Linked DNA regions of Homo sapiens: region 1 is linked to region 2. Evidence: fine-mapped expression QTL. A gene starts in region 2. The other region holds a variant in brackets. All regions are shown on one strand. Distances are between the middles of the regions. Region 1 overlaps WNT11 (Wnt family member 11). Region 2 holds the start of WNT11 (Wnt family member 11).

Region 1 (14,371 bases), 28 kb after region 2:
AAGCCTGGTGTGAAGGGAGCCCAGAGGGTCCCTGATCCAGCCTGGACATCAAGGAAGGCTTCCTAGAGGAGGGGAAATTTAAGATTGATGATGAGGTTGGGGGTTGGGTGTAAGTGAGCCTGGTGAACTGTGAAAGGCGTGTGCATGCGGGGTATCTCTAGAGGCTGCCTCCCTCTCTGCGGAAGATGCCTTGCAGCCTCCTCAAATCTAACCTGGGGAAACCAAGGCCTAATCTGCAGACAATATTCCAAACCCTAGCCCTCTTGTCATATTTCTTCCAGAGGCCTGCACCTCTGAAACCCACCCCCACCCACAGTCTGAGCCACCCTGTACCCTGGGAGCCAGGCATCCAACGGCCCTTCCCTGGGCCTATGGCCCCACTGGCCCCAATCCTGGTCCCAGGCACCCGGGCCTTGTCTGGATCTGACACTGGAGGCCAAGTTTTCAGACAATGCATGTCAGGGATCCAGAAATTTAAAAAAGAACTCTGCCTCCTTCCTACCCTTCAGGGTAGAGTGCTCAGCCAGAGCCTTCAGGAGAAGGCTGAGGGGGAACTCATGGATGCCAAGTGGCTAAACAAAGCCCAAAAAGGTTCAGTGACCTGCCTTAAGTCACACAGCCACTAAGTGGCAGAGCTGGGGCTTGAACCCAGGTCTGTCCAGCTCTGGGGCAGGTGTTCTGGGAACTGCTGGCAGCCCCCACTTGCTGGTCACCGGCTGACTCTCCCCAGGCGCTCCCCTCCTTCTGCCCATGGCCCCTTCCGGCTCAGGCCTGGCCTCTCCCCCAGCACTGATCAGCCTCCTCCGGGCCTCCAGCCCTCCCCTTCCATCTGCTCTCACTGTTCTGAGGGCAGGCCTCGTCTTCTGCCTTTGCCCAGGCTGTTCCCTCTACCCCAGCACTCCTTCCCTCCTCTGCACGGCGGAGTCTTGCTTATCCTTCATGAATGGCCTAGATGGCCTTTCCTCTTCCAGGAGGCCCTGCTGAACTCTCACAGACCTTGTACTCACCACGGGCAAGGCCCCTCTCCCTTCTGTGTCTGTTTCCCCATCAGTAAATATGAGGATTGCATTCGGTCATCTCTAGGACTTTCCCATCTTGGACATTCTGGGATTCCTCGGCCCACATGTGGGGACCCTTTGTCCCTGTCAGTGCCCCAGCCCCCTGCTGCTCTGTCCCCAACTACATCTCATGAAAACACTCCCTGTCTAGCCTCAGCCCAGCTAGAGGAGCCACCAGTCTGAACAGATGATTTGTCACTAGACAGAAGAACTGAGAGCAGTGGAAGGATGTTTGCATTTTATAGGGACCTTCAATGTCTTCGCATCCCACATTTGGGAAGAAATGCAGCCCCTGCTGGCTCCCATGCCCCACCCTTTAGGGTAGGGAGAGCAAGTCAGGGCCTTAGTTTTAGTCCCCAAGTTTAAGCCTCTGCCCTTTGCTGAGCCTGTTTTCATCTGCATAATGGACGTAATCATTCCACTGACCCAAGGGCCCTACAGGCCTCCACTAAGATAAGACACTGGAGGGAGAGCCTGACCCACAGGAGGCACATGGCCAACAGACCCCTATTCCTCCACGAGCAGCGTGTCTGATGCCCAGTGGGGGTTCGAGTATTTCAGCATTTATCCTAGGATTCTAAAAATCAAATGATCTTGACATCTCTCATAATATTTAATTAAAGATTAAATATGGCTGTGTGTGGTGGCACACGCCTGTAATCCCAGCTACTCGGGAGGCTGAGGCAAGAGAATCGCTTGAACCCAGGAGGCAGAGGTTGCAGTGAGCTGAGATTGCACCACTGCACTCCAGCCTGGGCAACAGAGCGAGACTCTGTAAAAGGTTACACATAAAGATAGGCTTATTAGATTGGTTGGAGGGTCCTTCCAGTATTTAGAAGTAGAAGAAATAGAAAAAAGCTATCTCCAAGACAACAAAACAAGGCTGGGCACAGCAGCTCATGCCTGTAATCCTAGCACTTTGGAAGGCTGAGGTGGGAGGATTGCTTGAGCCTAGGAGTTCAAGACCAGCCTGAGCAATATAGTGGGATTCCATCGCTACAAAAATAAAAAATTAGCCGGACATGGTGGTGTGTGCCTGTAGTCCCAGCTACTCAGGAGGCCAGGGTGGGAGGAGCACTTGAGCCGGGGGCCTGGGTGGTGGGGAAGGCGGGGGTCAAGGCTGCAGGGAGCCATGATCACAACCACTGCACTCCAGCCTGGGCAACAGAGTGAGACCCCATCTCAAAAAAATAAAAGAAAACAGCCCCATCATTTTGGTAACCCCTTATTAGAAATATAGGGAAAAGTTAGAAGTACCTTTAGGTAAGAGGATTATTTAAAATTCCCCAAAGATCAAGACAGCTTCTAAGAAGGGCTGAGTCGGTGGCCATGGGAGACGCTGCCGGCTGCCTGGCTGGGAGTCATGGGGTGTTGGTGGGGTGGTGACCAAGGCATGCACTGACCTCCTTCCTGCCCCCACAATAGGCAGTGCAACAAGACATCCAACGGAAGCGACAGCTGCGACCTTATGTGCTGCGGGCGTGGCTACAACCCCTACACAGACCGCGTGGTCGAGCGGTGCCACTGTAAGTACCACTGGTGCTGCTACGTCACCTGCCGCAGGTGTGAGCGTACCGTGGAGCGCTATGTCTGCAAGTGAGGCCCTGCCCTCCGCCCCACGCAGGAGCGAGGACTCTGCTCAAGGACCCTCAGCAACTGGGGCCAGGGGCCTGGAGACACTCCATGGAGCTCTGCTTGTGAATTCCAGATGCCAGGCATGGGAGGCGGCTTGTGCTTTGCCTTCACTTGGAAGCCACCAGGAACAGAAGGTCTGGCCACCCTGGAAGGAGGGCAGGACATCAAAGGAAACCGACAAGATTAAAAATAACTTGGCAGCCTGAGGCTCTGGAGTGCCCACAGGCTGGTGTAAGGAGCGGGGCTTGGGATCGGTGAGACTGATACAGACTTGACCTTTCAGGGCCACAGAGACCAGCCTCCGGGAAGGGGTCTGCCCGCCTTCTTCAGAATGTTCTGCGGGACCCCCTGGCCCACCCTGGGGTCTGAGCCTGCTGGGCCCACCACATGGAATCACTAGCTTGGGTTGTAAATGTTTTCTTTTGTTTTTTGCTTTTTCTTCCTTTGGGATGTGGAAGCTACAGAAATATTTATAAAACATAGCTTTTTCTTTGGGGTGGCACTTCTCAATTCCTCTTTATATATTTTATATATATAAATATATATGTATATATATAATGATCTCTATTTTAAAACTAGCTTTTTAAGCAGCTGTATGAAATAAATGCTGAGTGAGCCCCAGCCCGCCCCTGCAGTTCCCGGCCTCGTCAAGTGAACTCGGCAGACCCTGGGGCTGGCAGAGGGAGCTCTCCAGTTTCC[A/G]GGCAAGGCGGCTTCCGATTGATGTCCCTTCTCCCCCCGCGCTCCCCCCACACCAGGCCCTGGCCCTGATCTCCCTGTAAGAGCTCTTGGTCAAGGGCGAGGACAGACGTCTTGAAACATAAACCCAGCTGGCAGCATCTTTTTTCCTCAGGGACACACACGCAGGCGCAGCTCAAAGCCTGGCCGTGTTGTCAGGCCTGCCTGCTAAGCTGGCTTCAAGGGAAAACACTCCCTGGGCAGCTGGGATGCAGACTTCGGGGAGGTGGTGCAGATCCAGGCTCTAGCTAGCCCTGGTGGGTTTTCTGCGTGACCCTGGGGAGGGCTCTCTGCCAGCTGCAGTTTCCCCATTTGTAAAATGGGAGTGGTGGGGAGGAAGGCTGAAGGTTGGGAAAGGCCTCGTGCCTGGAGGCTGGCAGCATTGGACGTGTTGAGAAGTGGTTGGATTCTGGTTCTGTTTTGAAGGGGGAGCCAACAGGATTTGTTCTCTTTTTGCATGTGGGGTGTAAGGGGAAGGAGGCCCAAGAATGACTGCCGGGGTTTTGGCTGGAGCACTGGGAAGGCTGAAGGGGCCGAATGCCGACATGGGGGTGGGGAGAGGCCTGGGGTTCAGATTTGGGCCCGTGGGGATTGTGATACAGTTTACGCTCCTAGTGGAAATACTGAGTGGCCGGGCAGATATCCGGGTCTGGAGTGCTGGGGAGCGGCCAGGGCTGGAGATCCACATTTGGGTGTCATCGCTAAGGGAGTGTGTGGGATAGAAGAGTAAAGAGGACCAAGGCCTGGGGCACTCCTGCCTTGGAGGCTGGGGAGATGAAGCTCAGAGAAGACACAGGAGACAGAAGGAACAGCCAGGGAGGCAGGAGGGAGGTCGGCGGTCCTGGCTGTTGCCAAGTGAAGACAGGGTGCCAAGGGGAACAGGATCACCGCAGGCACATCACTGTCCCTCTGAGCTTCCGTGTCACCTCCCTCATGGAGGCAGCACCAGTAACCAAGAGATGAGTAAGTGGGGTATCCCCAGTGCCTGGCCAGGGCAGGTGGCCCCGAAACAGAAGCAGTGGTTCATCACCTGGATCTTGCTGTGGCTGGGGTGTAAGAGGATGTTATAATCCAAATCTCTGCATGCACCAGAGAGACTCGGACTTAGTACCAGTGCTCTTCCCTCCCCGAGCCGGCTGAGGACTGAGACACCACCTGGAGGGGCTGGGGCAGAGCGGGGCCTTGCACAGGATTTGGAGAAGTGAAGCCACATCCTTGGGGGTGGGATGGCATGGATGACCCCTCAGGGGCTGGACCCATCCTGAGTGGGAAGAAGGGGGCCTTCTGTGGCCATCCTCGAGGCCCTGCCTGAAAGCTTGCAGTGCGGACAGCCAGAGCCACAGCGTCACCAGCTGCAAGGAACCTCAAGATAAGTCTTCTGGTGTGTTTTGCAGATGAGGAAATTCAGAGATGGGAAGGGCCTTCCTGTGGTCACAGAGCTGATAAGGGGCTGGGAACGGGGGGAGGTGGAGCCTTCCCGGGTGGGGCCCCTGCCAGCCCCTCTGTTGAAAACCCCCAGCCTCCCTGGAAGGAGCCCCTGGAATGTGCGCTCTCCAGGCCCAGGGCTTCCCTGCTTCATAGCTCTCAGCAACCTCCTAGCCCACAAAACCAATCCCCAGTCCCTAGCCTGGAACACAAGGCCTGTCCCCCAGGCGATTCTTCCAACAGCATTTCCTGCAACTCCCAGCTGCTCAGCCTGCCTGCCCTCTGGGCATCTGCTGTTCTCCCTCGCCAAGAGTGCTGTTTTCCCTGCTGGAATCCCACACAACCCTCACAGCCCTCTCCACAAAACCTTCCCCAGTGCCCTAGGTGGAAGGGATCTCCCCCTCTTCAGGCACCCCACAACCCTCTGAACATTTAAAGCAGCCATCACCCTCCTTCTCAAGCTGCCAGCCAATGCCCTCTTCTGCAAAAGCCAGGTAAATGGCTCCCTCCTCCAGGAAGCCCTCCCCAACTACCCTCAGCCTGGGTCAGGGGCCTCCTCTGGGTTTCCACAGCCTCTGTGCTCCCTGCAATGTTTCATGGAACCAAGGTGTTGTGGAGGCCTATGTTGTGTCATATCATCTGTCTTCCCCACCTGTCTGGGGCCTTTTCATGGGCTGGGACCAGCCATATGCACCAATGGGCCCTGGGATCTGGGGGGCAGCACAACAGGGCTGGGTATAAAACATACCTCCAAAATGTTGGATTTGGGAGTGTCCTTTGGACCTCTGTCAGGACAAGTAAATGGGGAAACCAGACCAAGGACCCAGAATGGCTCTCAGAAAGGGTGGCCACATGATATAACTGCTACCATTTATTGTGCACCTGCTGTGTGACCTTCTAAACACAGTGGCCCAAGTCATCACAGCAGCCCTCCGAAGTGAGTATTGTTACCATTGACAGAGGAGGAAACTGAGGCTCTGCAAGAAAAGGCGGCTCGCTCCAGACCTCAGGAAAACTCCCAGCACAGCAGGGCTCTGAGCGCAGGTGCGTTCCTGCTCACATGTCCGCACTCCCAGCAGGCTCGGGGGAGCTGCATGGAGAGCTGAAGACCGTTTCCTGGGCTGAGCTGGAGGGCTGGGAGGGGAGTCCTCAAGCTCAGGACAGGAGACCCTGGGGGGGGGTCCCTGACTCAGCGGGCTACTGGCCCGTCCCCACATCTGTGACAAAGCACTTAACCTTTCTGGCTGGCCAGGAGCTGGACAACCGAAGGGCAGTGGGAGCTGGTCCCGGTGCTTCCCCTCACCCCCAGGTCAAGGCTCTAAGAATGCAACCAGGCTGAGCCCCACTCCGGGGAGGTGGATGCTGGGGCCTCTGCCAGGTGCATCACAGGGGTGTGGAGGCTCCCAGGACCTCGGAGCTCTGGTAGCTCAGGATCTCATTGTGTTCAGAGATTTGGAAACGTGAGATCTTGGTACTCAGGAATTGTGGAGTAGAAACCCCAAACCACTGCCTTGCCAGCCCTGTAGAGGCCCCCAGGCCAATGGCCAACCCAAAGGATTTTGAAGGCTGCATACTGATCTGAGGGTGTCAGAATTCTTGTCCCCAGCAGATTTCCCTTCCCAGGACTTGCTCCATCTCCCTCCTGTGTAAGGGGCAGCAGTCACAGACAGGGCTGTGTGAGGCTTGGAGAGCCCCCGAAAGATGGAGACTCCCCAGTGATGACAGCACCAGCCGCTCTGAGGCGGCTCTGAACCAAGTGTGGGAGGCTGGCTGGAGACCTGGGAGAGACAGGGTCTGAGGAGGGAGACAAGAAGGCGGCAGAGAGGAAACAGGAACTCCTGAAAAGAGGGAGAGATTAGTTTGGTGGGAAAGGGGAGAGTGGACAGATAAGACCCCGTGAGGAGGCCAGGCCAGGCCAGAGGAACAACCAAGGGGCCCAAGCCCAGCCCTGAGCAAGCCACTGGTCTGTGGTTCCTGAGGCTGTGGAGACCAGCCACTGGGTTACACAAACCAGGCCCCAGCATGATGCAGTCTCCAGTCCGGAACCCCAGACCCAGAGAGGCTGGACGGGGTAAGGGGAGTTTAGGGCTAGGAGGTAGGAATCCTGCATCTTTTCTAGCTTCTTGCTGTGTGACTCTAGGCAACCACTGGCCCTCTCTGGGCCTCTTCGGCAGTTGTTTTGTCCAATTCTTACACCCAATCTAAGGGATATGACCCAGTATCTCTGTTTTATTGATGAGGAAACTAAGGCTCAGAGAGGGAAGTGACTGGCCCAATGTTAGAGAATAATTAGTGGAGGAGCTGAGATTCAAACCTCGGACTGCTTGGCTCCAACTGTTGGGCTTGTCTCAGCCTCCACAACATGCATCCCAGGGATGAAGGTGGTCTGTGACTGAGTGGGGGTTTTGACTGGGAGCCGCTGGAGGGCATTGCAAGAGAGGAACAGGGAACAATTCAAGACTGAGCAGTTCCTGACATCTGTTGCAGGGCCTGGGAAGCGCAGTCCAGGCGCAGGTGCCAGGAAGGAGCTGCCCATCAGGATCAGGCCACAGCTCAACTAACACGTTCCCGCCCTGCCCTCCTCAGGTGAGCTGCTCAGCATCGCCTGTGTGCCTGGCCGCCCAGGCCTCACCTGTGTGTGTGTTGGCGCGAGGGACGGGGGAGCACATGAAGCTCAGGTGTCCTCTTCAGTGGGCCCACAACTCTTAGTTATTATAGCAGAGAAGACAGGAGGCCGAAGACAGGCAGAGCCCTGGGGCTTTGGGGATTTGGAGAGGGAAGGCCTACTCCTTTCTGGGTACTGGGAGTAAGGAGTGGGAAATCAGGAAGATTTCATGGAAGAGGTGCCATTTGCATTGGGTCTGGAAAGTGGGGCAGGATTTTAAGAGATGGAGAAGAAGGTGATGTGGAGGGGTCTGTGTGAGAACAGCCATGGCAGCAAAGTATGCTCAGAGGAGGCCAAGAGGTGGGTATGGCTGGAGCTCAGGGGCCTGTGGGCACCAGGGCAGCAAGGATCCAAGCCAGGCTGCCTTGGGTCCTGCCAGGTATCCAAGACCACCCCCAACAGGGCACTAGCAGCCGACTGGTCTGACCGCCGCCTGCCCGCCAGGCCACCCGCCCGCCCGCAGAGCTGGCTGGCTCCAGGCAGAGCAATTTAACAGCCGCACGTTTAATGGTCCCTTTGCTCCCATATACCAAATCAATATCCGCTCTGCTCCCCAGGCTTGTGGCTGCTGAAGACAGTCTCCTTACCGGCCCCTTGGTCCACATTGTCTTACCTGCTGGGCGCCAGCAGAGGGGCTGGAGCGCTGGGGCAGGGAGCCCGGGGTGGGTGATGGGGGAGGAGCAAGAGGAGGACGTGGCTGATCAGGACAATCATCCCAGACACCCCCATTCAGGCTGGCAGGTGAAGGCAAGAGCTTGCCAGAGGCCCAGCCTCCAGTGCGCCTGGGCACAGATGCCGTTCAAATCGGAGTATTTATTTTATGTCTCCACTGTCTGCGCATCCACAAAAGCATGCGGTCCTCAAGAAGGTGGTGGAGTAGGAGGCTGCCTGAGGGCTGCAGGGACAATAGCCCGTTAGATGTCATTACCTCGGAGCCTCCTTCACACTCAAGATTCCCAGAGTCCATTTTTCCTAGAGTCTGGTCCTCCATTCCGAACCATTCCACGGCCCTGCGATCTCAGGACACTGGACTCGAGACACTACGAGTCCATCATGCCTAGTACTTGAAGACTCCAGAACTGTCTGCCATGGCTTTCTGCACCTGAAGTGCAAGATTTCTCTTTTCTTGCATCTACACCATCCTTGCCTCCCCACGTCCCCTCCCCCGGAGGTTGCCCTCTCTTCCAGTCCCATCTGACCCAAGGCAGAGTGGGAGCAGCAGGCAGGAGGCCACTGCAGGCAGACCCTGGCTCTCTTCAGCCCTGGCCTTTCCCTAGACATCCCAGGTGAGAGATGGGTAACCGGGGCACCCTCTGATCCAAAGCCAGCTCCTGGGGCCTGGCTCTTCATCCTGGATGGTCTTCCTGCAGGCCTGTGATGGGGCTCCGTGCTCCAGGTGACATCTGGGTCGGTTTGGAGGCTGTTCCCTCCTGGCAGTTGCTGTCCTTCCCTCCTGCTGTCTTGCTGGGTGGACCTGCAAGCCCCTGGGGGCTTCTCTCGCAGCAAACAGAGACTCCATCGGCACCAGGGGCTGATCCAGATTCTCCGGAATGATGATCAACACTTCCTGTGTAGGCCAAAGCCCAGGCATGGTGTAAAATCCATTTAGGAGCAAAGAAAAACAGACCCCACCACCTCCTGCACATACACAGCGTACCTCCCATGCCAACACCCCCACACCCACCCACCCCACCCTCTCTCTCTCTCCAGAACACACATGAAATGCAGGAACTCTGCGGGAGGCTGTCCTGGGTAGCAGGCAGGAGCACGGCCTGTCAGAGCCACACAGACAGGGTTTTAACCCTGCACTGCCCCTTCCAAGCTGAGTCACCCTGAACACATCACAGCACCCCCAATTCCCTTTCCTTGGCTGTAAAATGAGGGTGAACACAGCTTGTCCTGACACTCGGGAGAGGTCAAGTGTGTAAAGTCTCCAGCACCCTGCCTGGCTGACCAGGCCCAGCCAGAGCTAGGTGGGTTGTGCCTGTTATACAACCTGCCATTCCTTCCCCAAAGCTCCCCTGAACTTGGGCTCCATGCCCTGCCCTGTGCTGCAGGCTGGGGACACAGGTAAGCCAGCTCCAGCTCCTAGACTACACACCTGCTGTGGGTGAGGGACAGGTAACCTGGGCACCCTCTGATCCAAGAGCACCAAGGAGAGATGACTCTGCTGCGGGAGGGGCTGGGGAGGACCATGTGTTACAGGCACAGGCCTGACTGTGGCTCCTGGTTCTGCCCTTGCTGGCCGTGAGTTACTTCAGCTTTCTGAGTCCCTGTTTGCTCATCTGTGAAGCAGGATGAATGGCAGGACCCACCTCTTTGTCTTGTTGTAAGGCTCAAAGTAGGTAATGCACATCAAGCACTCAGCAGATAGATAGTAAGAGTTATCCACTGGTAGCCACTGTGATTAAAGAATAATTCAGTGACACAGTCAGTCAACAAACCTCCACCGAGACAGCCTCTGCAGATGCTGGGGTGTAAGAGCTGAGGCTAAATGGCTCCAGCCCTCAGGGCCCCAAAGCCCCAAGAGTCTGGGTAAGAGACTGTAATTGAGGGGTGAGCAAAGTGGGCTGGGGGCCCAGGGCCAGGGGCAAGGGGATAGAGTCAGGGTAGCCCTCCCAGGGAAGGCCCCATGGGTGCTGCAGCTGGATACAGAAGGAGGAAGAGCAGTGCCTGGCTGGACTGGAGGGGGACACCGAGGCAGAGGACAGTGTGGCCAAGGTCGGGGTGAGGAGAGCAAGGGCTCTTCAGGAGACACACTCGCAGGGGCCTTCCGGTTTCTGGAAAAGCCCAGCTCTGTGGGATCCCAGGGGACCTGCACAGGAGGGCTCTGCAGGGGTGAAGCGCAGCCCTGCCCTCACACAGGGCTCCTCTGAAGGCCGGAATGGAGCGCGAGCAGAGGGAGGCTTTGCCCTTCCTGACGAAGCCCTGCAGCCCTGCAGCCCTTCTCCCAGGAGACTGTGGGCCTCTGAGAGGGCCCGGCCCCACCATCGAGTCCCCCAGCCCCTTACAGCACCCTACCCGTACCTCGTGTGGTCCTGGGACTGCAGATGCTGGTGGACCAGGGCCTGCGAGGACACCATCTGTTCCTGCTGTCCCCCAAAAACCCGACCCAGGCCTGGTCCACAGACACAGCAGAAGCCCAAGGCAGCAAGGGCCCATACCAGAGGGGCTGGTGGACCCCCAGGCCCGAGGCTGGGGCTCAGGTCCAGGCTCTAGGTGGGACATGTGTGCCTCTTGAAGGATGCTGCTCACTGGTGAGTGGTGGGCCCCCAGACCCCATCTTTCCCCAGGCTAACCCCGACTTACAGACAAGGGAACTGGGACAAGAAGCCTGCTCCTGATGGGTGCTGGCTCCCAGTGGTTCCGACTTCAGAGGCCCGCAGAGATGCCTGGCCCTGTGCTGAAGGCCTTCCTGCCCTCTCACGACATCCATGTTTCCTGAGCACCTCTTGTGTGCTGGGGGCTGCCCTTGGTGCAAGGGTGCACTGGGGGGTCTCACTCAGAGCTCTCCAGGCCCTGGTCCCATGGAAGGGTTGCAGCACGCGTTGCAAAGGCCACAGCCCCACACCTCTGCCTGGGGACCTGGCTCCCTGCAAGGGCCTGGCTGCTGGAGGCAGGACGGCTGATCTCTGGAAGGAGCTTGCAAAGGGGCACTACTGGAAGGCACCTTGATTAAGAAACATTCACAGCAGCAGCCCCAGACTCACCTGCCTGGGATTATGGAAGCCTCGCCCTTGGCCTGCAGCTGAGCCCCTGCTGTGGTAACAAGCACACAACCAGCCCTTACTGAGAACTTCCGAGGCCCTACGCACAGGGCACACACGGCTCCTGCTGGCATAGCCACTCACATATCCTGTGAGTAGGACGTGGCATCATTACTACTGAAGAAACAGGTACTGTGGGTGACTCCGGAGCCAGACCAGGCCCAGCTCTACCATTTAATCCCTGGGTGACCGGTGCCTTTGTTTTTTCATCTTTAAAATAGGGACCAGGCCAGTCCTCCCTTCTCTGGGATGTTGAGAGAAGCAGGTAAGGTTAAGGGCTTGGGATGGCCTGTGGCAGAGTCGAGGTCTTGTAAATGATCAGCATGAAGATCCTGATGCCAGGATTTGGCACCTGGGCTCCTCTTCAGGCACTGCTCTGCCTACCCTCGTGGCTGGTCCCATCAGGCTGTTTCCATGGGACCCCCACTGCCTGGGGAGCTGGAGGCCTGGCCTCCTGTGATAGCCCCTGCCATGATGCTAGGCACAGACCAGGTGCTTACAAATGGCCGCAGTGTGTATTATGTTGGGGAGGAGGGAGAATTAGTGGCATTTGAGGGTGCTTCCATGTAAGCCTGACGCCACCACTCCAAGGCCTCCCATCTCCCTAGGGCATCCATCCTTGTCGTTGCTGGGTCCTCCCACCTCTCAGCTCGAGAGGGATTGTCCCATTTTACAGGTCCCCTTCGCCTCTGCTCACTAAGGGCTGGAGGCTCAGGGAAGCCTCAGTCACTGGAGAGAGAACCAGAAAGACCTTGGAAGTCAGCTTCTCCAACTCTCCTGGCCTCAACCCCACTCTACAGATGGGGAAACTAAGGCCCAGAGGGGCAGGGCTGCCCCCAGTCCCGCTGTGTGTCAGAGGCAGATTCCCTGGCTGTGCTCCGGCCTCCGAGGGGCTGGGGGGCTGTGGGGTCTGGGCCGAGCAGGGCCTGTTGTAATCAATCCCGCCACCCTCGCCTGCTTTGCCCTCTGAAGCATGGTCTTCCCCTCTCCCTACCAGAGAGGGGCCTGGGTCCTGGCAAGCTGGGGGAGGAGCAACACAAATATTTAGTCTGTGTGGAAGGGAGCAAAGCTCAGATCTTGGCCCAGTGGCCCTGCCTCAGGCCCTGTGCCAGGAGCCACATCACAGAGGACCATGAGCCCCCCAGTGTCCTAGGGCCCCCATCACAAATGATTTTTTGCACAAACCTGTTATGGTGCCAGAAATTCCACCATTTATAATTCCTTGGGGGTGAGACATCATATCTTCCCACTAGGCTCCCTTTTCCAATAATAATAATAACAATAATAGCAACATGTGCATGTCCAGGGGTGTACAGTTAACCCAGGACTTTCCCATCCCCCACCCTCATAACAGCTCGGTAAGGCAGGTACTGTTTTAGCTATTTTGGACGGGAAACCAGGACTCAGAGGGGTGGTGGGACTTGCCCAGGGTCACAGAGAGCAGTAGGCGACTAGACTCAGGTCCAGGTCTGACTGCAGAGTCCTGGTCTCAATCTTGGTCCCCCTAGGCAATGGCAGCTTGAGGTGGTGGTGCCTTTGGGTTCCTGGAGGAGGGAGCCATCCTCGGCCGCAGGCCTGCAAGGGGCCCCCTCCTGGGTTGGGGCAGGGACCAGTTGTATCCCAGGTTCCTCGCCTTTTCCTCTACAGCCAGACATCTCTCCAGTCTCAAACCTGGCGGAAGTTTGACACCACAGGGATCTGATTCCTGCTGAGGGCCTCAGATTTAACCTCCTCTCCTCATCCCCCAGTCCTGAGCCCCTCTGGGTTCCTATCTCCATGAATGGGAAGTGCTATCGTTCCCCACCTGCTTTAGCGTCTCCCCCCTGCCCCCGCATTATGCAAATCCTCAGGCCCCACCCCAGACCTACCGAATTGGAAACTCTGGGGAGCAGGCTGGAGACTGAGTGGCACTGCTGGAGCACAGGCCCCGGCCTCGCCACCCTCCTGCCCGACACCCTCTGTGGCTCCCCACTACCTGCAGGATCAAGCCTAGCTCCAGGCTGGCATGGAGCCCCCCGGTCTGGCCACCAACCTGCTCTGGACTCTCCCCTCCTAGCCTGCTCCTCTCTGCACCCAAGCGCCCTGCACTCCTTCCCAGCCACCGCCCTGTAGCCCACACTCCCCACGTGGCTGTCTTCTTGCGTGTCTCCATCCCTCCTGCCTGTCCCTGGGCAGCCTGGAAACGTCGATGATCCTTCACCACCGTCTGTGGCAAGTCCTCCCTGACTTCTCCAGGCAGAGGCCCCAAATTAGTACCCACGGCACCCTGGGCTCCCTCTGGGACAGCTCTAGTCACCCTGTGTGGTCCTGCTTGTTTCAGTTTCATACAAGGGCTGGCCCAGGGAAGGCCTCAGTAAATGCTGAGATGGAAAGAACAAGAGAGTCTGGCTGCAGAGACAAGGGGCTACATCTTCTAAACTGAGCCCAGCTGGTTTAGATCATCTCTGGGTCCTCCCACCCCTGCTTCACTGTGGGCCTTCCTGCCCCGTGGGCTTCTGTTTCTCCATGTGGCCGGAGGGGGCAGAGGCAGCCCCTTGCTGCAGCTCAGGGGCCCCTGGGTCAAGGTCACAGTGCCCTTCACTCCAGGGCTCCCGTTCTGTCCACTTGCCTCTCCCACCACCACCCCAGGAATGGTGACCCCAGCACCTGCTTAAGTCCCTCAGGCCCCACCCCAGACCTACCGAATTGGAAACTCTGGGGAGCAGGCTAGAGACTGAGCGGCACTGCTGGAGCACAGGCCCCGGCCTCACCACCCTCCTGCCCGACACCCTCTGTGGCTCCCCACTGCCTGCAGGATCAAGCCTAGCTCCAGGTGTGCCCTACACCCCCAGCCCCATGGTCCATTTTATGGGGTGGAAAATGAGGCTGGGGTAACAGCTGAATCTGCGGGGGGTCCAAGTCACCCCTCACTGGGCTGGCTGGGAGGAGGGGAGCCAGCTCCTCACCAGCATCTGGTGCTCACAGGGGCCGGGTCGACCTGGGGGGGATCCTGGGAAACAGGCGCACTCCTGAGCCCCTCTGCACCTCTGTCTCCTCTCCTCTCACATGGCCATAGCCAAGCACACCTTGTGGGTGAGGGGCAGATG
Region 2 (14,671 bases):
CCTCACCTCCCCATCCAACCCCAGACCTGCCCCAGACTTGAATCCCAAACCTGACCTTACCCCTTCCCTCTTCAGACCTCCTCCATGTCTCTCTTGGCAAAGCCCAAGCTCCCTAGCCCAGCACTGAAGGCCCTCCGTGGCATGGGCCTGGCTTCCTCTCCCGTTATTCTCCCTCCTGTTGCTCTTCATGCCAGCAGCACCGAACCACCCACTTACCCTTCTCTGAAAGCAAACTTCTTCTTGTCTTTGCTTACACTGTTCCCCTGCTGGGAACGCCCTCCCCCTTCCCCGGCCACCTGACAATTCCTCTCCCACCTGCACATTATTTATATAGACATGAATGCTAAGTACAGATGAGCTCTCCATCTGGAACTGTTTACGTACCTGGCAGAAAAGGAACTAACCTTTATCAAGGACCGATTACGTGCTGAGCATTTTACATACATCATCTCTCCTTTAAGCCCCACAGCAACCCAGGCAATAAATTTCACTCCTCCTATTTTTCAGGTGAGAAAACTGAGGCTCAGAGACATGAAGTGTCTCTTCCAAGGCCAAACAGAAGTTGCTTTCGAGTTGCAACCCCAAACTGTGTGATCCAGAGCCCATGCTTGTTTTAGGGCCAGGTGGAAGCACTTCCCTTAGGGTTATATCTGTGTCCGGGGACACCATGTACATAAAAATACTTGTTATTAAGTGAGGTTGTGCTGCTTTGTAATGCTAGGGACCATCGTGATGTGCCTAAGGCTATCCTATATAAGAGGGGACCCCAGGAAGACAGCCAGGACCCCTGGGGGAATCAGAGGTCTCTGCTCTAGACGGAGGAGGATCTTCTCCAAGACAGAGCCATTCATAATGGAAGACACCATCCTGGAGGGAGTGAGCTCCAATCCCTGGCAACTTTGGAGCAATTACTGTTTGTCCAGCCCTGGTGCAGTACTGGGGACATAGCAGCACATGACAGAGCTATCACTGGCCACATGCTGCCCCAGATCAGTGGAGACATTACAGGGCCTCTGGTGGCCAGCACCTTGGGGTTATGAGAGGGGGTGGCCCAACGGTAAGATTCTAAGATTCTGAAATGACATTAGACAAATAATTGTGTATATATTTAGCTTTTTCACTCTTTAAGCCTGGCTGCTTCTTGTCTCTATTGCTACATAACAAACCATGTCAAGATTTAGTAGTTTAAAGCCATAATTGACTCTCGTGCTTCTGTGGGCTGACCCAGCAGCTCTGCTGACCTTGTTGGGCTCGCTCGCGTGGCTGCATTTGACTGATGGGCCAGCCGATACAGCAAGGCCTCTCTCTGCCCCAGCCTGGGCTTCTGACCTTGCAGCTGGGCTGGGCCCCAACAGGGTGAAGGCAGAAGCTGCAAGGCCCCGAGTCCTGGGCAGCAGAACACAGGCTACATCTACTAGTCAAGCAAGCCATGAGGTCAGCCCAGATGGAGGGGTGGGGACAGAGCCTTCGCTTTTGCATGGAGTCACATTCCAAAGAGTCTTTATGTTCTGGGATGGGAGGAATTGGTGCTACTAAAAAGCTGCCTCACTGGCCTGCTCAGAAAGGCTTCAGAACCAGTGACAAATAACTGCATGGCTTATGCCTGGATGTCAGGAGACCTGATATCTGTCTCCTGCACCACTAACCGAGTGATGTGCGACCCCTCTCTCGGCGTCAGTTTCTCTATGTGTACAGTCGGGGCACTGAGCATGGTAGGTCTCTGGCCCTGTGTGTGCGTGTGATGGGGTGAAACTCAGACAATGCCGCCTCTCTTCTCCCAGGTGCAGAGACGCTGATTTGTACACATATCAGAGAAGCAGAGGCCCAACCATAAAAGAAACTGCCATCCTGACACAAATGCCCCTGTGGCCCACTGCTTCCTATGCCTCCTCTTCTGGTGACAGGCACTGCACCCAGCCATGCCCAGAGCCAGTTTCCCGTGGCAATAACAGATGTCCATCAGAGGGAGAGTGCGTGACTCAAACAAGGCCAATCAGCCGCCTTCCCTGGGACTGATTCAGAGGCCCAAGGAGACAGAGGTCTCATTTGACTGGAATTTCTAACTGGGGCTGTTGGTGGCTGCATCCCAATGGGGAGAAATGAGGCCCGGGTGAGTTCAAAGAGAGGAGGAAGAAGGAGAAGTGAGTTTGAGACAGCACAGCATCTCCAGGGGACCAGCACCAGCCCTGAGCCCTCCTGAGTGCAGTAGGGCCACCAGCCACCCCAGTTTCTCCTGCAGGAACCAGTTTCTCTGGTGTTGAAGCTGGTTGGGGTTGGGTTTCTTCTCTCCTGGAGCTGAAAGAGGCCTGAGAAACACACACATTGTCTCCTGAGCAGCCACCACCATGATTAAACAACTGAGAGTTGAAAGCAGGCTTTCAGATGTGACGCCCTCAGTAGACATGACGGGTGGCATTTTGTTATGTGCACCCAGGAAAGACACCTCCCATCTCTCCGTGGTGCCCCCAGGCCTGCTCCCTGAGCCCTGTAAAATAACAATACCTCCCCTGAGGTAACTGAAGGGGAGGAGGAAGACATACCCTACCCTGGGCAGTGGGCAGAGGTTCCAGAAACCCACAGACCCGGGGTTTGCAGCCAGGCCCACTCACTGACAGAGAGATCTTGTATGAATTACCTGACAGACCTGGCCCAGTGTGCTTATCTGCAGAGCAATGCCTGTCTCAGGCATAGGCACAGAAACTGCCTAGCACACAGTAGGTGCTTGTTCAACCAATATGACTTCTTACAACATTATTTCTCAATAACATCGAGAAGGAGTGGTTTCGTGGCTTTCTGTTTTGCAGATGATGAAACTAAGGATCCCAGAGGCTGAGTGACTTCCCCGGAGTCCCTCGGTGGGTAAGTGGAGGAGGTGAGTCTGACAGCCAGGCCCAGGTGCTCTGATGACAGGCCTGCTGCTATTTTGTCCCCTTACCCCACCCTTGCCTGGAAGATCTGGCCTCACAGGGCATGCCAGAAACAGCTGGGCTGGGTTCCTCTGCTCAGACCCCCTGTTCATGTGTCTTCTCAGAAAGGCCTTTCTAAAAGCACCCTGGTGGTGGAAGCAGTACGCTTTAGTCTCATTGTAACCAATGAGAAATGGGAAATGGTGATGACGGCCTCTGCCCTGCCCTGCCCTCCCTCGAGATGTGTCCAGGACCAGGATGAGGGATCTCAAAAAATGGTTCTGGCCGGTGCAGTGCCTCATGCCTGTAATCCCAGCACTTTGAGAGGTCAAGGTGGGTGGATCACCTGAGGTCAGGAGTTTGAGACCAGCCTGGCCAACATGGTGAAACCCCTGTCTCTACTAAAAATACAAAAATTAGCCGGGTGTGGTGGTGGGCACCTGTAGTCCCAGCTACTTGGAAGGCTGAAGCATGAGAATCGCTTGAACCCAAAAGGTGGAGGTTGCAGTGAGCTGAGACTGCACCATTGCACTCCAGCCTGGGCAACAAGAGCGAAACTCTGTCTCAAAACAAAACAAAACAAAACAAAAATGGTTCTGGGAAGCCAGCATCTGCCAGGTGGCCTGGGGTCGGGAGAGGGAGAGTACCTGTGGTCTTCCTTCATTCACATTCATGGCTCGTCCTATGGCACAGGCTGGTTTGGTGGTGAGAAGAGCATGGCCCAGGGAGTGCTGGTTCCAGGCTAGAAAGAGTCATCTATGGAGCAGGTCCAAACCCAACCAGGAGCCTGGGACCCATGAGTCCAGCCCATGCCAGCTGCCCCCAGCCAACCCGCAGACATGGGAGGGAGAGGCGTGTGCTTGTGGATGATGCCACAGAGACTGTACACAGCAAAAGTGGAGCAAAACACTGTCGCTTTTTTTTTTTTTTTTTTTTTGAGATGAGTCTTGCTCTGTCACCCAGACTAGAGTGCAGTGGTACCATCTTGGCTCACTGCAACCTCTGCTACCCAGGTTCAAGCGATTCTCCTGCTTCAGCCTCCCAAGCAGCTGGGATTACAGGTGCCTGCCACCACACCTGGCTAATTTTTGTATTTTTAGTAGAGATGGGGTTTCGCCATGTTGGCCAGGCTGGTCTTGAACTCCTGACCTCAAGTGATCCACCCACCTCGTCCTCTCAAAGTGCTGGGATTACAGGCGTGAGCCACCACACCTAGCTGTCACTCTCTTTTGAGTCCCTTGGTGAAGCGATAGCGGTGAGCTGAGCGGTGCCCCACCACATCCCCCCTTCACACACCACAAAGTCGTGGCCCAGGGTGCGTGATCTTGACCCTTCTCCTTACTGGCTGCTTTTGGCTTTCTCTGGAAAAGCCTTTGTTGTTGTGGGAGGGATAAAGTGCTGAGGTCTGAGTAGGGGTAGTGGGCTTAGGGAAGACAGAGAAGGCATTGGGGGGGACATCTGGGGTTGTGGTCACACAGCATTCTTGGGTCAGGAGCCCCAAGATGTGTGGGTTCTAGAGCTGAAAAGGCCCTTAGAGGTTCAACCCTTCACTTATAGATGGGCGACTGGGGCTCAGACAAAGCAAAAAAACTACCTGCCATCACACAGCAAACTAGTGACGGGGCTCAGGACTGCAACCAGTTTTCCTGCACCCCCATCTGGTGCCCCTGCAAACAGGTGACTGCCCCCCACCATCTCCACCAAGGTTTTGGCCTCAAGGGAAGGAAGCTGAAGTGGGCAGAGGGCTCCCTCAAGGTCAGCAAGGCGAACGGAACTTTGTCCGCCCTTACCTCCATGTCCTTTCAGCCTGGGTGCCTCCCTGGGCAGGGTGGGTACAGGACGGGGGTGGGGGGAAAGGGGTGTGCCCCTGGCCAATGGCAGTCAGGCAGGGGCTGAGAAGCCAGCTGACAGGAAGCCCCCAGCATGTCTGGGTGATCAGATCACCAGAATCGCCTGGGCTGATTGAGAAGAAAGATATATTCACATCCACGTCCACAGCAGCAGCAGCCAGGGGCATGGGGCCTCATCCCCTCTGAAGAGGAGCCTGCAGCCCAGGTGGCCAGCACAAGCCAGATACACAGTGGCCCTTGAGGAGGACTGGACAGAGGGAAGTAGAAGGGACGGCAAGGGGGTAGGTCAGTTGGTTCTAAAGATGAAAACAAAATTCTTCTCAATTACTGCCTATTATGCAAATGGAGAGACTTGGGTGCAGGGAGGGGCAGACCCTCACCCCAAGTCTCCCTTGATTTTCAATGCAAGCTTTTGGCAACACTTTCTCATAGCCCTTCCCCCTACTCCCCTCCCCAGGCAGGTTTCCAGCCCTAGCTGATGCCTGGGTCCTGATCCACAGGACACAGCTGAGTAGCTGGCAGGTGGCAGGAGGGGGCAGGGCTGAGCTTCAGGAGTATGGGATGTTCTGCTGGTTTCCTTCAACTCCCCACAAGACAATGGAAAGTCACTATCCTTCCCCCATGTGTTCACTGGGAGCCACCAGCCATAGTGGAGTCTGAGCCAGAGATCTGGGTTCATATATCAGCTCCCTTTTGAGCCTCAGCTTCCACATCTGTGAAATGGGAATACTAATCCTGATCTTGGAGAAGTAGAGGATTCCATGGGATTGTATTATTCCCATTTTGTGGGTGAGAAAACTAAGTCTTGGGGAATTTAAGCAACTTGCTCAAGATTACACAGCTAAAAATAAAATTGGGCAAAATCTGTATTGGAATCCAAGTTTACATGACTCCAAATTCTTCCATTTCTACTCTAGCCGGGAGCCAGAGGGGATTTCTGGCAGGACTGCTGCAAATGTTTGGAGGCAACTGACTGAGCCTCTTAAACGGGCAGAGGGTGCGCATCCCAATCAGACAGAGACCACCTGGAATGGCTCTGACTGAAGTGGCCGGGGGGCCTGGGGCAGGGGAGCTGAAGACATTCTTGGGCCCCCGGAGGCCTTTGCTCTCTGCCTCTTAGGTGGAATAGCCCCCGCCTTCCCTTCCTCAATGCCCCAAGCCCACTGTCTTTCCACTGCTTTTTTGATCAGATTGCCCCAGTGTTCTGGCATGAGAGATGGGGGTGTCCCAGCGTATGTTCCAAAGGATATCCCTGTGATTGTGTGCAGAAGTACATGTTAGGCATTGTACACTTGGGAGCTGTGTGTGCATGGAAGCTCACGCATGTTTGCACCTGAACTGTGTGCGCGCAGGTGGTCTGTGTGCAGCCTCCCCTTCATGATGTGTGTACGGCCATTTCACACCTCTGTGCTACTGTGTGTGAGGGCAGATGATATGTCCTGGTATCTCCCGAGTGTGTTTGTAACCATATGCGGGGTGATATGCCCCAGCCTGTGTGTGAGGACTGGCTGTGTGGGAGTACTGGTATGGCTGGGAGGCTGCTATGGGCACTGTGGGCCCAGATGTTTGTGTTGTATGTGGAGGTACCTGTAGCTGGGTGTGGGGCAGCCTAGGAGTGCCACTTCATCTGCAGCTGCAAAGAATGGGGAAAAGAATGTCAGGCATTTTGGGGGACCTGAGACAGGCTCCGTGTCCTCACTAAGTCTCCATTTCCCTTTCTGCTAATGAACCAGTTATCCTTGAGGACGTCCTGGGATTGAGGCCCCTAGAAGGAGGGGGAGACATGGATGAACCCACAGCACCCGATGGGCAGTTAGAAATCGCAGTCATGTTGTGGGGTAAGCAGCTGGTCTGCTCAGGGGAGGCCAAGTGAGGGGGTCCAGAAGCACCACACGCCTGGGCTACTCGACGCAGGAGGTGCCTCTCTAGGCTCCTTTAACTTAGGAAACCCAGTCCTCCTCTGCTCCCCCTCCCCTGTGTCCAGAACACTCCCCAGCAGTCACCCCAACGGCTGGGACGCCGCCCAGCTCCACACCTAAGGTTTACAGCGGGCTTTGTAGCGCGGAGTCCTCGTGTCTCTTTCTCTTGCAGGATCGTTGATTCCTTTTCCACAACTGGAACCAGAGGCCAGAAGAGATGGCCCCCCGAAGGACCAGGACTAGGACACGAAGGCAGGTTTCGGGACCTCAGACGTCTACAGTAACCACGCTGCGCGACCAACACCTAAGGATGCCCCGGCTCCAGACTGAGACCCAAGTCTGACTTCCCCCTGCCAGTTGAGGCTCCTTGCCTGGTTGCTGCGACGATTCGAGATGGGCCTTACCCGGGCCCCACGCGTGTCGCAGGCACGCAGCACGCACGCTTAGTAAACACCAGCTGTAGTGAGCGAGTCCCCCTTTGTAACTCGACAGAGTACTAAGTTCTCTGGAGCGGCGGGCGCCGCCGGTCAGTGGCGTCCGCGGGGACCCCGCCCCCGCCCCCCGCGCGCGGCCGGGGCCACCCGGTGGGGTTGCGACGCGCTGACGTGGGCGGATCAAAGCGGCCGCCCGCCTTATAAAGCAGTTTGGGAGGCTCGCGCCGGAGATCGCGCCAGGCGAGGAGGAGAGCTCGGGCGAGCGGCGAGCACAGGCCACGGGAGCTGAGCGCAGCAGAGAGCAGCCGGAGTCCGCGCCTGACTCCGCGCGGGTCCTGAGCCGGCCGCAGCTTGCCAGGATCCCCGGCGTCCTTCTCGCGCCGCTTCACGAAGAGGGCGCCTTCGCCGCTCGCCCAGCCGGAGTGCGCACGGGCCCGCTGGAAACCGCACTCGCCGCTCCCTGGGCAGGCCGGGGCACCCGGGCACGCAGGGCGCGCCTGGCGAGCGCCCCGGGAGGTGAGCAGTGGTCGCGGGCAGCGGGCAGCCGCTCAGCGGGGACCCGCCAGGGCTGGGGGCGCCCGAGTCCGAGGGGGACGACGCTTCTCGCACCCGCCACGACCCCCTTGGGCACCCACTCCCGGGTAAGCAAACCAAGCGCTCCTCCATACCTTTCCCCCGCAGCACTCCGAAGAGTTCCCCTTTGCGGAGCGAAGCCTCGGGAGCCTGGGGACGCGGGGTTTAGGGGCACGCGGGACGGTGGTGGGTTGTGCAGTTCCTGCGGCCCTCCTCGAACTTTCCCGGCCCGGCCCCCCTCTTCTGCCCCCGCACCCCAGGCGACCCCCTCCTTCCCAGTCGTTCGGCGGATGAGGTCATGCCCGAGCCACCCCCGGGGGTGGGGGACTTGGATCCCGCGACAGAGGGTGTGTGTGGTGGGCGGGGGGAAAGGGTGGCAAAAGGCAAAGAAATGCGGCAGCGCCTAGTAAATTGGGGATGGGGGCAGAAGCCTGGCTTTGAGAACGGGTCCCAGGGGCGGCGGGGGGAGGGGGAGAACCGAGTTTGTTTACTGACCTGAGCTCCAGGCTGGGGGCTAGGGAGGAGGAAAGTCCTGTCCCCGGCCCCGAGGCACATCTGCAACCGCCCGGAACATCTGGCTGAGCTCGCGCACGAGCTCCACGCCTCCCACCCCCGGGGCTGAAGTGCCTCGGTGTCCCTCAAGGCCCTGGGCGTGCAGGGTCCGGCTCCAGGGGGTTAGCAGGAGGGATCTCGAGTGCTCCCACCCACCCTTCCCACTTCCAAAACAACCCGTCTCCCGGGTGACCCGGCGCCGCGTGCGCAGCCAAGCAGACGTCTCTCGAAAGCCTCACGGCTGGGGTCAAAGCCGGGTGGCAGGCCCGGCCTCGCCCCGCCCCGCAGGTAACCTTGAAGCCGTCGCTCGGCGTCCCTGGTTGGCGGGGTCAGCTCCGTGAGCTGCGTGGCGGGAGGCTTCGGGACCCGCCCGTGCCGACCTTGCGCGCCGCGCGGACAATCGGCCCCGGTGCACGGTGCCCGTGGGGCGTCGGGGTAGGGGGGACCCCGCAAGTCCTCGCCGGGCCGGCGTGGCCTGGTCCCAGCGGCCGGCTTTCCAGAGTCCTCCACAGACCGGGCCTATGACCATCTGTTGGCGGCGCTGGGCTGCGGCGCTGCGCTCGTGGTGTTCTCCCTGTGCACAGCCCCAGGCGGCCGCCTCCCGGGCCCGCTGCAGGCAGGGTAGCTCGGACCAACTTCGAGGAGGTGACCGCTCGCTCTCCAAAGGTGCTACGCCTGGCGCGGCCCACTACGCGCCCGGCCCCAAGCAAGGGGCCGGGCAGGTCAGGGCGGCCCACGGCAAGTGTCCTATAGAACGACCAGGACACAGGGGGCACTCCCTCGACACGTCGTCCCATCCCCAGACGGAGAAGCGGGGGCCCAGGAAGAGGACTTGACCCCAGCCCGCGACGCAGGAGGCAGCCGCGATTCCCCCCTCCTCGAGCCCCGGCTTAGCGCCCCCTGGCGGGCTGGGGGCTTCAGGAGGCGCGTGCACCCTGACCCGCGAGCTCAGGCGGAAGGTGACCCCGTGGCCTGCGCGGCTGTCCCGGGCGCTCGTACAAGGGACAGGAACAGTCCGTCAGGACCCAGAGGCTCGGGCCAGGCGCTGCCTCCCCGCGCGACGAGCTTGGGCGGCGGAGGGAGAGCCTTGGGACAGCCGGGGCTGCACCGAAAGAGCTGGGCGGGGCTGGAGGCCTGGGTCCCCGTCCGCTGTGCGACCTAGGGGGCTCCTCCTCTCCCTGGGAGACCAGGCTGGACACAGATCCCCCGCTGTGAGTCCGCGCGCCTCCGTCCTCTTGCAGCCCCCGCCCCCTCCCCACCCAGGAATGCCGGGTGCCTTCGGGGGGCGGCGCACTTTGGGAGAGGGGAAGACGGTGACTGGAGTTTTGATTCCCCCCTCCATATCCAGCGGATATTTTTCTCGTTCTGAGAAGTGCAAGAAACTTGCAGGACCAGGAAGACAAAGGATTTGGATACAGGCTGGGTGGGAGGACGGGACTGGGTTACACCGAGAACCCCTCTGAGACCCCCAGCCTTGACGGCATGTTTGTCGCAGGCGCCCCTGTGCTGGGCGCTAGCTGCGGGGCTCTGCGGAGGAAAAAAACTGTACGATCCAGGCTTCTCCTCGCCTTCCTGTGGGTTTTGCCGACAGGCTCCAGAAAACAGTGGGGCTTCCCATCTCTGCGTGCTGACTACCCACGCGCAGGAACGCGCCACGCAGGTGGCGTCGCGGTGCAAATAGCAGAGGGGCGCTGAGCCCCGCAGGCTGCAGGGAGACGGGGTCCTCGGGGGACGCACGGCGAAGCCCCATTCCTCGTTCTTATGGAAGGGGACACCGAGGCTGGGGTGGCTGAGGGCTTGCCCAAGCTCACAGAGCCAGATAAGAACGTCCCTTTTCTGCTCCAGCGCCCCCACTACCGTGGGCGCCTCCTTTTCCAACTCCCCAAACCCTTAGAAAGGAATCCCTTTGTCTCTGCTCCTCCCGAGGGGAGAGGGGCTGGGGCTGTGTCTGACTCCGGGCGAACGCCAGGTGTTGGTAAATTTGGGAGAAGCTGGGAAGGGAGTTAATGAGGTGAGAATGAAGTGAAGGAGAAAAAAAGCGGAGATAGCTGCTCCGCGGGCTGCGGGCGGGCGGGGCAGCCTCTCCTCCGCGGCCCGAGGGCGCCGCCTGGAGGCCAGAGGCAACACCGCGCCAGCCCCGCGAGCTTCCCCGCTTCGCTAAGGCGGGGCTGCCCAGTCCCAGCCCGCATGCTTCCACTCCCACCCTCCAAAGTGGAGCGGCTAAAGACGGACTTGGAGACTCGGAATCCTCACTGTACAAAGAGCCCTACCATCCCGTTTCCCATCCTCCCCTTCCCACACCGAGAAAGCAGGGCCCCGAGCAAGCCCCATTTCCTGATTTCGCCGGACACCCGGCTTGCCGCTCCCTAGCTGAACCCCACCTCTGTGCCTCAGTTTCCTCATCTGTGAGATGAGGCAGCGATAGTGCCTATCTCACGGGGTGCTGGGAGGAGCAGATGCGATCGTGTTAGGGAACTTTTTTTGTTTGTCTGTTTGTTTGAGACGGAGTTTCGCTCTTGTCGCCCAGGCTAGAGTGCAGTGGCGCAATCTCCGCTCGCTGCAACCTCCGCCTCCCGGGTTCAAGCGGTTCTCCTGCCTCAGCCTCCCGAGTAGCTGGGATTACAGGCGCCCGCCACCACGCCCGGCTAATTTTTTGTATTCGTAGTAGAGACGGGGTTTTGCCATGTTGGGCAGGCTGGTCTCGAGCTCCTGACCTCAGGTGACCCGCCCGCCTCGACCTCCCAAAGTGCTGGGATTACAGGCGTGAGCCACCCTGCCCGGCCAGGGAACGTTCTTTATAAAAGCGGAATTGTGCCCGAATTGCCCCAGCTTACTGAGGAGGTAAACTGAAACACGTTTGGGAAGGAGAATTGCCGAGGCCCTATTAACTAATGCTCAATATTGCAGGGATAAGCCCCAGCTCCGGGTCCTCGACTCTGCTGCCTCGCCTGGACTCCTGATTCCTCATTCCTCTCCTTTCCGTCCCAGGTTGCGTCTGTCCGGGTTTCCCCCTCTGTCTCCGTGGCTCTCAGCCTTGTCCTCTGAGCGTCCTTCTCCCTCTCGCTGTGTCTGCCCGGTCTCTCCTGGGTCTCCGGTTCTGCCGCCTCCTGTCCCTCCTTCCGGCTGCCCCGGCCAGAGGGGCTCGAAGGCGCGTTGGGGCCCGGGGCCACGCTGGGAGACACGCCTTCGGCCGCGCCTAATTCGAGCCAGGCGCGGGACGCGTCCCCCGGCCGGGCGGAGCGGGAGGGGACGCCCGCCGCGCTCGGCCTCCCCGGGCCCCGACCCCTCCTTTGTAATTTGAATAAAACGCCTCCCCCGCCCGCGCGCCGCCTTAACCCGCCGCCTCCGCTCTCCCCGGCTGCAGGCGGCGTGCAGGACCAGCGGCGGCCGTGCAGGCGGAGGACTTCGGCGCGGCTCCTCCTGGGTGTGACCCCGGGCGCGCCCGCCGCGCGACGATGAGGGCGCGGCCGCAGGTCTGCGAGGCGCTGCTCTTCGCCCTGGCGCTCCAGACCGGCGTGTGCTATGGCATCAAGTGGCTGTGAGTAGGGACCCCGCGTCCACGCGCACAGGCCAGGGACTGGGGCGGCGGAGGGCGTTTTGGGGTCCCCTGGATGGGGCGAGCGCACCAAGACCCGGGAGCCTAAGCTGGCTTGGCGGTCGTGGGCAAGTCATCCCTCAGCCTCTGTTTCCTCCTCTGTAAAATGTCCCTGCCTCCCGCAGGCTTGCGAAAAGGGAGTGAGACGGGCGTGGACCACAATGGAAGCGCCTGGTCCTGTGCAGCTGACGGTGGCGCAAGGGCCACGGAGTTTCTGGCCACCTCCGCAGGGGCAGATGGAAAAAGACATTCTGTTCAGGGGGCGCAATCCAGAGCGGCCAGCCCAGGAGCGGTCCTTGTCCGTCAGTCTCCTTGACCCTAGCGGGAGTTCCGCTGAGACACTCCTGACCCCTCCACCTGGGCGACCTTGGGAAAGTGTCACTCTACTTCTTGGGGCCTCCTTGTCCTCCTCTGTCACGGGAGGGTGAGACTCCCCACCTCCCTCAAATCAGATGAGAAGAGGCTCCTGAAAGGACCTCAGAAGCTGTCAGATGCCACTGTGCACATGTGCAGGGCATTCCTTTAGATAGAAATTATTCACGCAGGGGTAGGAGGGAGAGAGAGGCTTGGTGCCGAGCTGAAGGGAGTGCCTGCTCAGGGGGCTGGGGGTGGTGAAGAGAGGAGTAAACACCAGCCCCTTCCCGGAGGAGCTGCGCTCTAAGTTGAGAGAGATAAGCCCAGGCTGTAAATAACTCCACAAGTGTCCAAGTGCCCGAGGAGAAACCAGAGCGGGAATCTGGAGGCCTAGAGGAAGGAAGCCCACCTGGTGGGGACACAGATGTGAGACACCGGGAAGCTTTTCCGAGGCTGTGCCTCTGGTGACTGAAGCGCTGCTGGGAGTTGGCTGGTTCGGGCAATGGAGAGGACGCTGTGGGCAGAGGGGCTCCCTGAGAGGGAAAGTCCAGGACAGGACAAGGGTCTGGAATCTGGGGCCAGGGCAGGGAGCCTGCAGATAAGACAGCAGGGGGCAGGTTGTGGGGGCTGGGGAGGGCGCTGCAAAGGGTTTGTGAATTAGTTGGAAGACAGGGTGATAGTGGCTGCGCCGCCAGCAAACAGTCTGGAGGTCACTGGCCCTGCCCCTTCTCAGGCCAAGTTATTGATTAATTGACGATTCGAGGAGGGAACCCCGTCTTCCTGCCTTTCTTGTTTACAAGAAGCCTGGTCTCAGCAATCTCCCAGCCCTGGGCACTAGCTTTTCCCAGCTGTCCCTGAGGAGTTCTGTGAGAAACCAGCCACCTTCCTTTTGCAATGGGGTACCCAGCACTGTTCCAGCTGGCAGGGACCTCCGATCAGCGAGTCCAAGCTCTCTCATCCACCGCCACCATTTTACAGATAAGGATACTAAGGTCCAGGGAAGGAGAGGATTGGCTGAAGGAGCGTCAGAGGCCTTGCAGTGGGCTTGGGTGTCATTTGCCGCCCATAAGAGTCCTGTGGGGTCACTGCCATCATCCCTGCTCCACAGTGGGAACACCGAGACCCTGCAAAGGGCATGATGCACGCAAGCCCCCACGCTGGCCTGTGGTGGGATGGACGGCTGGCTAAACCTGACGTCCATGTCCTCTGTCCCCACTGCAAAGTCAGGCTGCCACAGAAATGGGTACAACTCATTGTGTGCCTTAAATAAGCCCCCAGGCTCTTGGGGGAGATGGACATATAGAAATACAAAGTGGACTATGGTCTGTGTCCTAGCAGAGGGAGCATGGCAGCCCAGAGGAGGAGTGATCAGTTCTATCTAAGGGAGATGCATAGGCCAGGATTGGAAGGACAGGGAGGATTTGGATGGTCAGAGACGGAGTGCAAAGCAGGCGTCCTAGGCGGGAGGCACAGCACGAGCAGAAGCCTGGAGGCCGAACAGCGCATGCGGGGAGACCTGGAGAAACCAGGCACCACAAGAGCCTACTCCTAAGTGCCCCAGACGCTGCTCCGAGAGCTTGGGTCATGTAAGTTAGATCATACTGCACTCCTATGAGAAACTGATAGTCTAGCAATAGGGGATTAAAGTCTTGCTAGAGTTTAAGATAGAGGGGGAGGTGGGAAAAGGGGTGGAGTTTAAGAATAACAACGATCTGTGTATGCATGTGTATATATAGATACACGTGTGTAGGCCACGTGCATATATCTATGTATATGTACATATATGTCTACACACACATGGCCTCACTTTGTGCTAGGTGCCGTTCTAAGTGCCTTATGTATATTGTTCCATTTAAATATCCCAACCACCCTGTGAGGTGGGTGCTGCTATTACCCCCGTTGCACAGAAGAGGAAACAGAGACTGGGGCACACAGAGATGGGGGACTCTACCTAGCAGGGTGTCACAGCTCAGAGGTAGTAGAGGCAGGATTTGAGTTAAGCTGCCTAGCTCTGTGGACTGTTGGGCACAGGGAGCCCCAGCACAGCTGGGAGCAGGGAAGTGTTCAGTGAGGCTGGAAAGCCGGGGACTCACCCAGGAGCCTCCGCTGGCCTGGGCTTTGGAGAGTGAGCTGGAGATGAAAGGGGCACTTGGCACAGGAACTGAAAGCCAACATGGCCCAGTGGCCTGGAATGCTCACCTGGTGGGTGCCTGGGACGCAGGCTGAGCTGGTGGGATGGGGGCTGGGGAGAGGGGATCAGAACCTGGCTGCCCATAGAGGCACCTGCCCAGAAATAACCTGGGGATCCTTCCCTACCTTACCTCCACCCAGGCCAGGCACCAGAAGACTCCCAGCCCCTCAAGTATTCGGGGTCCCAGGTCTGGGCTGTCCACCCCCTTCTTGGCTTTCCTGGGTAGGGGGAGGGTTTGAGGGGAGTCCCACTCTCCTGTGAACCACGGAAGCGGTGGGGTGAGAGGAAAGGCCCAGG

What was found.
Region 1: its variant is fine-mapped to the expression of WNT11 in whole blood (INTERVAL, PIP above 0.99). The same link has a PIP of 0.9 or more in adrenal gland, blood mononuclear cells, lung and spleen.

What each region holds. Positions count from the first base shown.
Region 1 is chr11:76,175,352-76,189,722 of GRCh38, reverse strand. WNT11 (Wnt family member 11) reads left to right here. Exons shown (of 5, transcript NM_004626.3): 5 at 2,484-3,398. The coding sequence ends at 2,658. Among named protein-coding and RNA genes, the nearest start is that of WNT11, 24 kb to the left of the region's middle. RefSeq lists enhancers at 2,262-3,041, 3,823-4,603, 4,604-5,385, 12,124-12,418, 12,472-13,214 and 1 more and a silencer at 4,757-4,946. The variant A/G (reference allele first, on the strand shown) is at 3,393.
Region 2 is chr11:76,203,426-76,218,096 of GRCh38, reverse strand. It overlaps WNT11 (Wnt family member 11), which reads left to right and starts at 11,595. Exons shown (of 5, transcript NM_004626.3): 1 at 11,595-11,772. The coding sequence starts at 11,690. It overlaps LINC02761 (long intergenic non-protein coding RNA 2761), which reads left to right and starts at 2,007. Exons shown (of 3, transcript XR_007062785.1): 1 at 2,007-2,110; 2 at 2,805-2,872; 3 at 6,848-7,141. LOC112268079 (a long non-coding RNA gene) reads right to left here and starts at 8,270. Exons shown (of 2, transcript XR_002957259.1): 1 at 8,178-8,270; 2 at 6,565-7,832. RefSeq lists silencers at 7,421-7,590, 10,243-10,462, 11,443-11,682 and enhancers at 7,803-8,469, 8,802-8,851, 8,470-9,136, 10,471-11,138.